Linked DNA regions of Homo sapiens: all the other regions are reported to be linked to region 1. The links are microRNA targets in miRTarBase. Many come from high-throughput screens and were not tested one by one. Region 1 holds a microRNA gene; each other region holds the end of a gene's coding sequence.
The links. The annotated mature microRNA hsa-miR-2117 reads UGUUCUCUUUGCCAAGGACAG and lies in region 1 at 2,051-2,071, opposite strand. An mRNA with a match to its seed (bases 2 to 7 or 8) in the 3' UTR can be bound and repressed. Matches are read on the target gene's strand: a 7mer-m8 pairs with bases 2 to 8, a 7mer-A1 pairs with bases 2 to 7 and ends in A, and an 8mer does both.

Region 2: the mRNA of TUBGCP4 is a reported target of hsa-miR-2117. Seed matches in the 3' UTR shown: 7mer-A1 at 704-710 and 7mer-A1 at 736-742.
Region 3: miRTarBase lists VGLL2 as a target of hsa-miR-2117. The part of its 3' UTR that is shown has no 7-base or 8-base seed match.

What each region holds. Positions count from the first base shown.
Region 1 is chr17:43,442,584-43,446,926 of GRCh38, reverse strand. It overlaps MIR2117 (microRNA 2117), which reads right to left and starts at 2,121; the gene lies at 2,042-2,121. MIR2117HG (MIR2117 host gene) reads right to left here and starts at 2,220. Exons shown (of 2, transcript NR_146952.1): 1 at 2,019-2,220. It also overlaps the pseudogene RNU6-406P.
Region 2 is chr15:43,404,716-43,408,759 of GRCh38, forward strand. It overlaps TUBGCP4 (tubulin gamma complex component 4), which reads left to right. Exons shown (of 18, transcript NM_014444.5): 18 at 487-4,044. The coding sequence ends at 499. It overlaps TP53BP1 (tumor protein p53 binding protein 1), which reads right to left. Exons shown (of 28, transcript NM_001141980.3): 27 at 3,228-3,373; 28 at 1-2,855. The coding sequence ends at 2,668. Among named protein-coding and RNA genes, the nearest start is that of TUBGCP4, 36 kb to the left of the region's middle.
Region 3 is chr6:117,271,798-117,276,140 of GRCh38, forward strand. It overlaps VGLL2 (vestigial like family member 2), which reads left to right. Exons shown (of 4, transcript NM_182645.3): 4 at 657-1,768. The coding sequence ends at 697. Among named protein-coding and RNA genes, the nearest start is that of VGLL2, 8.4 kb to the left of the region's middle.

The DNA of each region.
Region 1 (4,343 bases):
CAGATAAACCCTGAAAACAGCATGCTAAGTGAAATAAGCTTGACATAAAAGGCCACAGATTGTGTGATTTCATTTATGTGACATATCAAGAGTAGGCAAAGCCATAGAGGGAGAGAGTCTCTATGGCTCGTATTTGCCAGGGGGTGGGCGGAAGGGGAAATGGGGAGAAGCTACTGTGGATTCGGGGTATTTTGGGGAGACGAGATAAAAATGTTCTGGAATTACTGGTGATGGTGGCACAACTTTACAAATATACTAAAAACACGAAATTTTACATTTTTTTTCTTGTAAATCTAGGTCTGAACAGATAATTGTATAATTTGGTAACTTGTTTTCCTCTCTTTTTTAGAGACAAGGTCTTTCTCTGTCACCCTAGCCAGAGTGTAGTGACGTGATCATAGCTCACTGTAACCCCAAACTCTTGGGCTCAAGCAATCCTCCTGTCTCAGCCTCCTGAGCAGCTAGGATTAAAGGCACTTGCCACCATCCCCAGCTAATTTTATTTATTTATTTATTTATTTATTTATTTATTTATTTATTTATTCATTCATTCATTTATTGGTAGAGACAGGGTCTCGCTGCATTGCCCAGGCTGGTCTCAAACTCCTGGCCTCAAGTGAGCCTCCGCCTAGGCATCCCAAAACCCTGGGATTGTTTTTTTTGAGACAGAGCTTCACTCTTCTTGCCTAGGCTGAAGTGCAATGGCGAGATCTTGGCTCACCGCAACCTCCACCTCCCGGGTTCAAGCAATTATCCTGCCTCAGCCTCCTGAGCAGCTGGGATTACAGGCATGCGCCACCATGCCCGGCTAATTTTGTATTTTTAGTAGAGATGGGGTTTCACCATGTTGGTCAGGCTGGTCTGGAAATCCTGACCTCAGGTGATCTGCCCGCCTCGGCCTCCCAAAGTACTGGGGATTACAGGTGTGAGCCACCACACCCAGCCTTTTTTTTTTTTTTTGAGACAGAGTCTTGCTCTGTCACCCAGGCTGGAGAGCAGTGGCACAATCTTGGCTCACTGCAACCTCCGCCTCCTGGGTTCAAGCGATTCTCTCGCCTCAGGCTCCCGAGTAGCTGGGATTACAAGCACACACCACCATGCCCGGCTAGTTTTTGTATTTTTAGTAGAGATGATGTTTCACCATATTGGACAGTCTGGTCTTGAACACCTGACCTCAGGTGATCTACCCACCTCGGCCTCCCAAAGTGTTGAGATCATAGGCGTGAGCCACCGTGCCTGGCCTCAAAACCCTGGGATTACAGGTGGGAACCACTGCATATGGCTGAGTTGTACACTTTAAAAAAAATTTTTTTTTAAATATGGAACACTTCACAAATTACAGTGTCATCTTTGAGCAAGGGTCATGCTAATTTTCTTTGTATCATTCCAATTTTAGTATATGTGCTGCTGAAGTGAGCATTGAATTGTATAATTTAAAAGGGTAAATTTTGTGGTATACTATACTAGTTTTATGGTATACCATAAAATTGTGGGTATACTTTATAAAAATAAAATTATGGTATGTAAAATGTTACGGTATACCATAAAATTATGGTATACTTTATGGTATACCATTAAATTGTACTCAGGCAGTATGAAAAACTCAGTATAAAAAAATTCATAGACCTGTACACCAACAGAAAAAATTTTACTGCATAATTTAAAAAATAAAAAAAAAATTAAGTCCTGTGTCCGAAAGGCAGGAGCCAGGTTCTCACCTGTTGTGTGTCACCTAAGTTGCCTCATACAATAAATGCTGAGGACAGTGGTTCCCGGACGTGGGTACATGTCCAGGAACCACCTGGTTGGGGGAGGTCTTTGAAAACTTCTGATGCCTGGCAACCGCCCCCAGGCATTCAGATTTAATTGGTCTGAGGTACAACCTGGGTACTGAGATGTTTTTTTAAAGCTTCCCAGGTGATTCTAACATGCAGCAAAATTTGAGAACCACGGGCTTAGCAAAAGGTTGATGAACAACCATTCTTGGGAGCCAAAAGCTAATCCCCGCCCCACCTTACCTCACTTTCACCTCAAGGCAATCAGATCAGATCTGTCCTTGGCAAAGAGAACAGCTACAGCCAATCCTGCTGTTCACCATGCCGGACAGAAGTAAATCAGAGCATTCTCTCCAGTTCCTTAAGGGCCACTGCTCTCTCTATAAACATGTGGTTGATGAGATCAGCAATTCTGAAGCAGGATCCATTCTACAAAGCATGGTTTCTTCCGTTCTCCCCAGGTTTTCTCTCTCTTGCTGTCCCCATTTGTAGCTGGGGTTGGGAAGTGGAGGAGAGAGAAAGTCACTGAATAAATACATTCTCTGTGTTCTCAATGAACAGACATGAAAGAAAAGAAAAATGGTAAATACATTCCTAGTAGGGTGAGCCTCAGTAGGTTTCTGGATTACCCTTCCCAGAAACATTCATATTTTCAAAGAAGACCTCCTGGTAAACGAAGACATGAGTCACTAGTAAGGAAGGTTTTGAGGGACAGGGTCTCTTTCCTTTAACTTCCCAGACACATGTCTGGACTGGTCCTGATTGTTTGACCTGTCTGTTTTCTTAGAACAGAGCATGAGATCCTAGCTAGCTGCATTCCATTCACTTAACAATTTGTTGTTCGAATTTATTTATTTCAGTTACGATTAGGTTTTGTCTGTGGCATTTATCGTCTTTCTATGCCAAGCAGTCTCACACTAACTTGAAAGCCCTTTTGTATTATCTACTGTGTTTCCTACAGGTGAGTCTTTTCACCTTGTCTTAGTAATTAAGACTTCTGGTTGTAGATTACAAAAACCATCTCAAGCAAGTTTAGGCAACAATGGGAGTTCTCAATGAGATTACAGGTGGAACCAGGAAAGTTAAGCCTCAGGGAGAGCAGGAATCCAGGCATACGTGGTCTTTATCAGGGAGTAGACACCAGGGCCCCACCCCAGTCAATGGGGAAGTCAGATCTCAGAGAATAATAATCATTGAACATGAATTGAATGTCTGCTATGTGCAGGAACATATATTATTGATAACATATTCTTATGTTATCAGTATGAGTTATATTACTATTGCTCTTCCCATTTTATAAATGAGGAAACTGAGGTCCACAGAAGATAAGCAATATGTTCAAGAGCTTCCAGGCCAGGTCCGGTGGCTCACACCTGTAATCCCAGCACTTTGGGAGGCCGAGGCAGGAGGATCACCTGAGCCTCAGAGTTTTGAGTCCAGCCTGGGCAACATAGGGAGACCTTATCTCTACAAAAAATTTAAAAAGTAACCAGGTGTGGTGGTGGTGCCTGTGGTCCCAGCTATTCAAGAGGCTGAGGTAGGAGAATCACTTGAGCCCGGGAGGTAGAGTCTGCAGTGAGCTGTGACTGTGCCACTGGACTGCAGCCTGGGTGGTGGAGAAAGACTCGGTCTCAAAAAAAAAAAAAGAAGTAGGGGGTGGGGGGCAGTTCCAGTTGGCACTGGAACTCAGGCAGTATGGTTTCAGAATTGACACACTTAGCCACCAGGTGAATGGTTCCCTTAAGAGTTGTACAGTGGGCAACCTGCACACCCATACCTGGCAGCCCTGACTATGGACTAGATCAGTGTTTCTCATCAGAGACACTGAGGACATTTGGAGCTAGATAATTTTTTGTGTAGGACTATCCCATCCTTCATTTACTATATGTGAGTGGTAATAACGCTCCCAATCATTGTGACAATCAAAAGCCAATCATTGTGACAATCAAAAGTATCAACCTCTTGAAACTTAAAAAAAAAAGAAAATGAAAAAAAAAAATTTAAGTATCAACCTCAGTTGAGAATCACTAGGATAAGTAGATAGCCCCAAATGATGTCTACATCTATTTTGTGAGCTCTTGATGACCAGTAGCAATGTGACTTCTTTTCCTCTTCCCACAGTAGTTGGCCCAGACAACTGTATACATACTCCACAAATGCTGGATGTGCATTGTCATTAGAGCCTGAAAGGATCCAGAGTCCTCAGCTTGGTGCTTCCCTACCCAGGATGATAGGGATGGAAACATGAGTCATGCATGGTAGATTCACTCCAACATCCTACGGGAAGACACAACAGTTTTCTCAGTTTTTCATTTGGTCCGCTGAACAAGCCAGCATGGTAGAAGGGCAGGAATTAGTCATTCCTATTATGAAAAAAGAATGTAACAGTAAAATTGTTTTTAATTTTGGCAAAGAAAAAAGTAACTATAAGCCTATCCTCTGCACAACTACCCTGTTTTGCATGTTACCTCCTGGCCCTGTCTACATGCTCTCTCTCAGTGTGCACGGTTATAGTCAAAGGGTATACCATCTGGGGTTCTGCTATTTTCACTAAACATTTATAAATGT
Region 2 (4,044 bases), not on the chromosome of region 1:
TTTTCTAGTAGAAGTCATCATCATCATAAAATACTAAAAAACCTGACAGTGAGATAGGTGTTAAGTCCTTTGCTAGGTTATGTATTGCTATGCTGGGAGGCAGTGGGCCTTCCACTCCCAATTCTGATATGAACTAGCTGTGCAGCCGTGGGCACCCCGCCTTGCTGGTCCCTAGCTTCCGCATCTGTGAAAGGAGGCGACCACCCCTTCTAACTCTAAACTTTAAAAAAAACTGATACCGAGATTCAGTGGTAGCTGGCTTCCCAGAGGTCTGTCATTCCCATTCAGAAAATCACTTCATTGTCCTTTCTCTCTAAAATGTCTGCAAGCAGATTTTTTTCTAAGCTATTGTAGCAGAAGAGTCAAAAGAAACTCTTCAGTTTTAAGATGACATTATTTAGATCACAGGTTATCCTGATTCATATTTCTTTGAAGGTAGTCTTGGGAAAGCATGACACTTAATAAGGCTCTTTTTCTCTTTTGTAGTTTCGGGATGTGAAAATTTCTGGCTCATAAATTGAAATAACAGCCACGTTCCCAAGGTTGTAACAGAAGATTCAAAACATCCCATTCTAGCCACACACAAATAAATATCTGCGGCTTAGTGATAGGACTCTACCTTTTCTCCTAGAAGCAGTTACTGAACATCCAGGAGTACAACTCCTTCCCATCATTCCCATGTGGAAGGGTCTCTCCCATCAAGGAGAACATGTGGCATCTCTGATCCTTTACATTGAGAACATTTGTTGGATATGTTCATTTATTCAATAGTCATTTATTGAGCACCTACTACGTACCTTGGTACTGTTCAAGCTGTGGGAGATACAGCGGTAAACAAACAATATAGAGCAGAAAGTTAAATATTTTATGGTTCATATGTGAAAAAGTAATTATGTTTATAAATAGACTAACTGCTGGATGTTACCACCAAGTAAGAAAGCAACAGGTAAGATAGGCTTTCTCTCTCCCTATACCAAGTAATTTATACCTACACAGATTGGGCAATTCTAGCTAATGAAAATATACTTAAAAGTATTTCTTAGGCCGGGCATGGTGGCTCACACCTGTAATCCCAGCACTTTGGGAGGCCGAGGCGGGCGGATCACCTGAAGTCAGGAGTTTGAGACCAGCCTGACCAACATGATGAAACCTCGATTCTACTAAAAATACAAAAATTAGCCAGGTGTGGTGGCATGTGCCTGTAATCCCAGCTACTCAGGAGGCTGAGACAGGAGAATTGCTTGAACCTGGGAAGCAGACGCTGCAGTGAGCTGAGATTGTGCCATTGCATTCCAGCCCGGGCAACAAGAGCGAAATTCCGTCTCAAAAAAAAAAAAAAAAAAAAAAAAAGTATTATTCTCCAAGAAAAAGGTCCTTAAGAAAAAATTGAGATCAAGTTGTTAGATTTTTAAATACTGAAGATTGCAGGCCCAATTACCCATCTTACACAAACCATAGGGGTTGAAGTTATCTTAATATGGCCCAGCCATCACTGGTAATCAATATTCATATCAGTGTAAGTAAAAAGAAATATTCACTGAACAACGCCCTCCAAACTGAAAAAGAATGCAGTGTTCTGGCATCAGGTTATAGTCACTGCATCTGGTTTTCATCACTACATATTCTACACACACTGGGAAGCTCTGACAACTTATTCCCTGCTATTATCAACTAAAGATCACCCTTTCTACTGCTGTCTCTGGAGCAGGAGCTGGCAAACTATGGCCTGCTGTCTGTTTTTGTACAGTTTTACTGAAACACAGCCATGCCCATTTGTTTACTCATTGTCTATGGTTGCTTTCATGCCCTCACAGCAAAGGCGAGTAGTTGTGATGGATCAAATGGCCCACAAAGCCTGAAATATTTACTCTTTGACCCTTTACAGAAAAAAACCTTGTTGACCCCTGCTTTAGAGAATGAGAAGCCATGCAGGGATCAGTGATGCCAGAGGAAGGGAAGGAACTGCTTCCAGCTATTGTGACAATAATAATAATAATAATATTGGGTCTTTGACTAGAACGTGTAACATTTCCAGGTGTTCTCACTTGTGCTTCCCATGTTTATCTTACGGAAGGTCATTCCATCAAGCTTATGGTCACTGTCCCTTCATGGCAGTTGGTCCTTTCGTTCTCCCTTTAGCTCTAAGAGTTGGGGAGTACCCACAGGTGAGCTGTGATCTCAGCTCAGAGAGAGAGCATGAGGTCTTTTTTAACTGTCAGGAAACAGAGCTGTGCCCAATTCCACTCAACTTTTGGCACAACTGTTAATCTGGGCCTTCACCTACCTTAAACTGAGTTTCTGCAAGCATAGCATTTTAGACACCCTGGAATAACCTTTTGGGAATGATGCCACAGAATAAAGTTCACTCTTAACTTTTCAATTTCCTTGGCCAGCTGTCCTCCGTAAGTGAATAAGCCTGTTGAAAGACTCAGAGAAAGTACTATGTCTTGTCATTTGTTCTGAGATTAAGCTCAAAAAAACAGATGAAGAAATCCCAGTTACTACAACCAAAGAGATTCAACATTTATTTTATCATAAAAGTTCAGCAAATAAAACTATATACAAGATCCATGCAAGGAATCCAGTTACACACAAGACACATTTAAAACCTGGTTAAAACACAATCTCCACGATAGCAGGGAATAAAACCAGTAAGACCAAGTATCTTTAGTGAGAAACATAATCGTGTTTATATTTTGGATGCTGCTTGAATCCAATTCTCTCCCCAACAATGAGGCACTGGATCACCCACTCTTGTGACACCACAGGCAGCTGCAATGCTTCAGCACACTTCAGCACCGAGGCTGGGCATGAGGGGTCCGTCACCACCACATCAAATACCCCTAAAGCAATATCTGCAAGGAGCAAGGGAAAGTGAAGAAGGAAAGGACACTCAACTTAGCCCTCCATTAGAAAGAGAGATTTGATTCTAACCAATACATCCCACTCTGCACAAACCAAAGCCCTATTATGTCAAACACACTGCTACTGATCATGACCAAAGGCAGAGTTATAATCACTATGTGCTGACCTTGTAGAAATATTTAACAAATATACGTCCAGTGCTTCACTTATGTTGACTCACCTCTTGAAGGTGGTACTTTTCTTCTCTAAGAAACATGGATACGGTCAACCTATTAGGCCTGAGCCTTGGACCACAAGGCCTAACACCTACAGGTCTAAGGAGATCCCTGGAACAAAGACACTACACACACTCTTTCAGGTACCTTTGTTATGGGCACTTGAATGGTGCTGCTTCACAGAGGCTGCACCACCAGTCATGAGGATCTCAGACCAGAGCTCCAGGAAGTTCTGCTGTTGGTCTGATACCAAGAGTACCTTCAGATTCTGGAAAGGATTTTCACGGGGTTGCCTATGAAGGAGACAGGAAAGGACCTTAGCATGACAAGTAATATCCAACAAACTGCCTTTCTGCAAAGGGACTCATGTACATCTGAATGCTTTCAAAAATAAATGCCCCATCAGACATAGTGTCTCAAGCCTGTAATCCCAGCACTTTGGGAGGCTGTCGTGGTTGGATCTCTTGGGCCTGGGAGTTCGAGACCAGCCTGGGCAATGTGGTGAGACCCCATCTCTACAAAAGACAACAAAAAAATTAGCTGGGTGTGGTGGCGAGTGCCTGTAGTCCCAGCAGCTTGGGAGGCTGAGGTAGGGGGATCACTTCAGCCTGGGAGGTTGAGGCTGCAGTAAGTCGTCACTGCGCCACTGTACTCCAGCCTAGGTGACAGAGCAAGACTTCATCTTAAAAAACTAAGCCCTATATTAGGGTCCCCCTTCTCTTCCTTCTTTCTATGAATGATCTGTATTCCTTGCATTCCTGGCTTTCTAATTTCCATGTTTGTTCTGGGGCTGAGAATAATCCAAATCATGCTCCTGAGCCTATATATTTTTAATGCTTGCTTAAAACTTAGTTCTCTGACTTTACAGGTTGAGAATATTGAACCTATATACAAATCTTCACACATTTGCAAAAGGTTCCTAGCCAATGTAACCTAGGGAAATAAACTAGATAAACTCCTGAAG
Region 3 (4,343 bases), not on the chromosome of region 1:
ATAAAATAGATCTCTTAAAAATGTAAATCTTAAAGAATATTTTAAAATGACAATCCTAAGTCTTTGGCTTAAAGTATTTGCAACGTACAGTCTAATAAGGGCTTGCTTTTTTGCCTTCTTTTCTTATTTTTAGGGCAAATGAAAGAAATAGTTATATAATAAGTGCAATCACTGGCTTTATAGTCTGCCCACTGCCCCTTTCCTCAAGTGATTTGACTTTTCGGTTTGCTTTGCTTTTACTTTCAGTCACCGCCCCCCTCCCCACCCCGCCCCCAACTTTAGGTGAAGTCTGTGACTTTCACAATAAAACAGTGGTGTTTTGTCCTTCTTTCCTTAAATATCTTGTGCCTTCCCTCCCCCATTCCTTCTTTCTCCCTCCCTTTGTCTTCCTCCTCCTCCTCTTCTTCTTTGTTCTCCTCCTTCTCCTTCTCCTTCTTCTTCTCTCTCTCCCTCTCCCTCTCTTTCCCTCCCTCTCCACCTCCTCTCTCTTTTATCTTCTCTCTATTTTCAGGTTTGCAGCCTCAGGACAAAAGCAAGGATGTGTACTGGTTTTAGACCGCCCACCTTCTTCCCTGTAGGTCTCTGCATAGTGCAATTGATGGCACTCAGAGCTGAAATGGAGTGGGTTTGTAACAGCTTCTGATCTTGGTTTGCAGCTCGTCGTTATTCCCTCTGTGGTGCATCCCTCCTGAGCTGATCTGCTGACCCAGGGTTTCCCCTTCCCCTTCCCTTCTGACCAGCCTTGGAGGCTCAGCATCTGTGCCTCTCACTCCGTGGATGAGGACATGGGGGAAGGCAGAGACTTCAGACTTCTCAGTGTGTTGGGAAAACCAAAAACCACAACTACAGAAATTCATCTAAAAATAAGTCCTGCTGCTGAAAGAGCAAATCCAAAGACTGAGTTATGTTTAATGACTTTTGGCCGAATCACTGGAAATATCTGTGGTGAGATTGCTGAGTCAGGTGATGTGATATCATAAGCTTTCTTGGAACGGGGGAAAGAAAATGAAACTTTTTGGTGTGAATATTTTTTATGCTGATGTGAATTATTTTGTTAGGTAGTGTGATTATAGCACTACTACTGTCAGATTTTAAATTGTATGTGTACTTGCATCTAAGACTGTGGTAGAGAAGTAAAGAGAAGTCAATTCCTTCTTCCTCACCTCTCAGCCTCCAGATCCCTTCCTGCCCATCCCTTCCCTACAATGCCCACTCCAGACGCAAAGATACACTTTTTTCCTTTGGACTGTGAACATGGAAGCCTCAGCCTGAATGTGAGTGGCAAGTGGCTTATCTGGAGCCACCTGCCCAAGTCTTACTAAAATGCAGCTGTTGTTAGACAACTGTTGAAAACTCCAGAAATACATCACCCAAGGTGGCAGTTCTCAGTATTTGGCAGAACAATTGCAATTGCACTGGGTATATTATATATATATATGTATGCATATATATCATATTTTTTACAAGGAACATTTTATGATGAAAGAAGAAACCCTTCTCTGCCTTCTCTCCCACGAATTCTGTCCCTGTATCCTCTGGATGTAAAAAGCAAGGAGAGACCCCAACTGTCTCCATGGAGAAGAACTAGGAATCACCACAAGGGGAAGAAATGTACATGAAGTCTCCATTACCTCGAATTTTTTTCTCAGTCTCACTGGTTGTGATTTGGTCACTTTAGTGTTGGGACAGGGGAAAGGGTCTGTGCGTGGGCAAAGCTGAAGGTGATGAGGAAGAAGAGACGAACATTAAAGATGTCTATTTACTATGAGCTCACTGTGTTGTTTCATAAAAAGAAAATAAATAACTTAGTTTTTTTCTAGTAGAATAAAATAACACAGTAGTATGATTTGATGTCAGTAATATTACATATATATAGATAGATAGATATAGATAGATAGATAGATCTTTCTGTGTTTCCACCGTGTTTGCTGTGCTATGAATCTGTTAGCTGTTTCCATCTCACATCAACCTTGGAGAACGAGAAGTTAGGTACCCCTGTCTGTTTTACAGATGAGAAAATTGTGGCCTACAGAGGCCAAGGGCTTGCCTGTTAACATTCAGAAGTTAGAAGCAAAGATGGTACAAAAAGCACTACCTGGTACAGATTTATTATTTTCCAGAAAAGATTTATTGTTACATGTTTAATTCTAGACTCAAGACAGTAGAGTCATCAGTTAAAAGTGTTTTTGAAATATTGGCTATTTTATATTTTAATAAGCTAGGCTAAGAAACCAAATCTCTCACTAGGCAAAAAAGATTTTTAAGAAAGAAACTGGTAGTTTTTCCCCTTGTTTCCTCTTGATACCAAAGTTATTTCTGTTCTTTCACAAAAGTGCCCAGTAGAGAGATTTTGTGTGCTGCTCAGATTACCCTTGTACCTTGTTAACACATAAAAATATTAGTTCAAATCTTGATCTTCATTATAACATGAGAGGCGAATATAATTTATCTTGGATAAGTCTCAAGAATTGGAAGCAGTTAAGGGATCTAACTCACAGCATGAGCTTGGCAGAGTTCCCCATACCCTCTTTCTGTCATTTGGCTACCTGTGAAGTACATATGATCATTCCAGGAATATGGTTTGCACTCTGATGGAAGGTACTCTATGATTATGTGCATCACATGTGATAACAATAATCATAATCATAACTAATGTTAATTGTTTATCACGTACTGGGCACTGATCTCTATAGATTAACTCATTTAAACCTCACAACAATTCTGTATGCTATTTATTACGATGTTCTCCTTCTTACCTATTAGAAAACTCAGGCACACAGAGGAGAAATTATTTGCCCAGTCATGAAGCTCGTCAGTGGCAGAGTCAGGCTGCAAATCCAGGTAGCCCCCGTGCAGGGCTGCACTGTTATTCGCTGTGTGACTGCTTGTCCAGTTCTGATTTGTCTCTTTGATCTTCAACGTTGGGCTTATTTTCTCCACAATAGATGCATAAAGAAAGGAAAAAAGTCAGAGAAGCACAGATTGATGATGCTTTGGTAGAATTTACAGAAGCCCAAGTCTTAAAGGAACTGTCGTAGGACATTGTCCAAACTCCATCAAATGACACTACTTAGACCATTCAGTCAGGTACAGCTCTCTATTCTTCTCCAGGAGGGAATTATTATTGCTTCTCTTATTCACTTCAGTATTTAACAGCCTTCACCACTCTGAAATTCTTCACACCCAACCTAATCAAGCTGTGTAAGAGTTAGCCTGAGGTTTGGACATTGAAGCAATAACTAAAATTAACTTTGGACTTCTCTGTGGATTGTTTTAATCCATGTTCCACTGGCATGAATCCCTGGTATATTCAAGTGTAAATAAAATGCATTAAGCCCCAGTGTGCTTTTCAGAATTTGCTACTAAATATACTGTTGAAGAAAGCATGGCAGTGCATTCTCTGCTGGACATCTCCACATATTCCCCACCGGAAGAGGTTGTTTACCTGTACCCCACCTGCGTTAACACTCACAAGATCTGTGATCAGAACCCACAGGGAACATTTTCCCACCCACAAGGTTCTGATTACTGAAACTTCTCTCCTAAGCTACATCTGACCTGAATATCAGGTTGCTGGTAAGGAGACTCATTCACTGGAATTGGCCTTTGGGGCGGTCCTGAACAGACCGTCCAGACTGCTGAGCCAGTCCAGGCTCCAGCGACCTGGCACGTATGACACGCGAACCACAGCGTTTCCCTCCATTCCACACCTTCCTAAGGTAGAAATGCAAGATGACCTAGATCCATAATGATTTGGTTCTGTGTAATAAGAGCATCAAAGAGAACTTTGGAGAAATGGTAGCCCCAACTGACATTCTGCAGGCTTACTTCAAGTCACACAAAATATGAACTCTCATACCTGTCTTGCTAATAGTAGTCAAACCATGCAGATTTGAAAAGATTCTAGCAGTTGAAAAAAGGACATCAAGGAAATGTGGGATGGCATGAGGAAAGGCAAACATGACATTTTTACATATGTTATACCTGGTCAGGGGGCTCAGAGAAAGGTTACATTCTCCTCTAATCACCCCCATTGGCACTAGTGTCCTCTTTGCCCACGGCTTTCCCTTTGCACTTGGCCTAGGTTGAAGGAGAGGTGATGAAAAGGAAAGAGACGGCTCTCCACCACCAAGTAATCCTTTTGCCGATTGCACTCTGGCTGAGAATTCGGTCACCCAGCTACAGGGAATTCTATCTGTTCTATTCCTTCAGTGTAAAAAGAGTTGCCATCCCGTCTCATTTCCCCTTTGAAGTTCTATTTAAATGCATGGCAAATTCTAGCAATATCTTAAGATTGATTTGGGTCTGGATGGGAGATGGTGGGTGTTGAGACTCAGAAACCC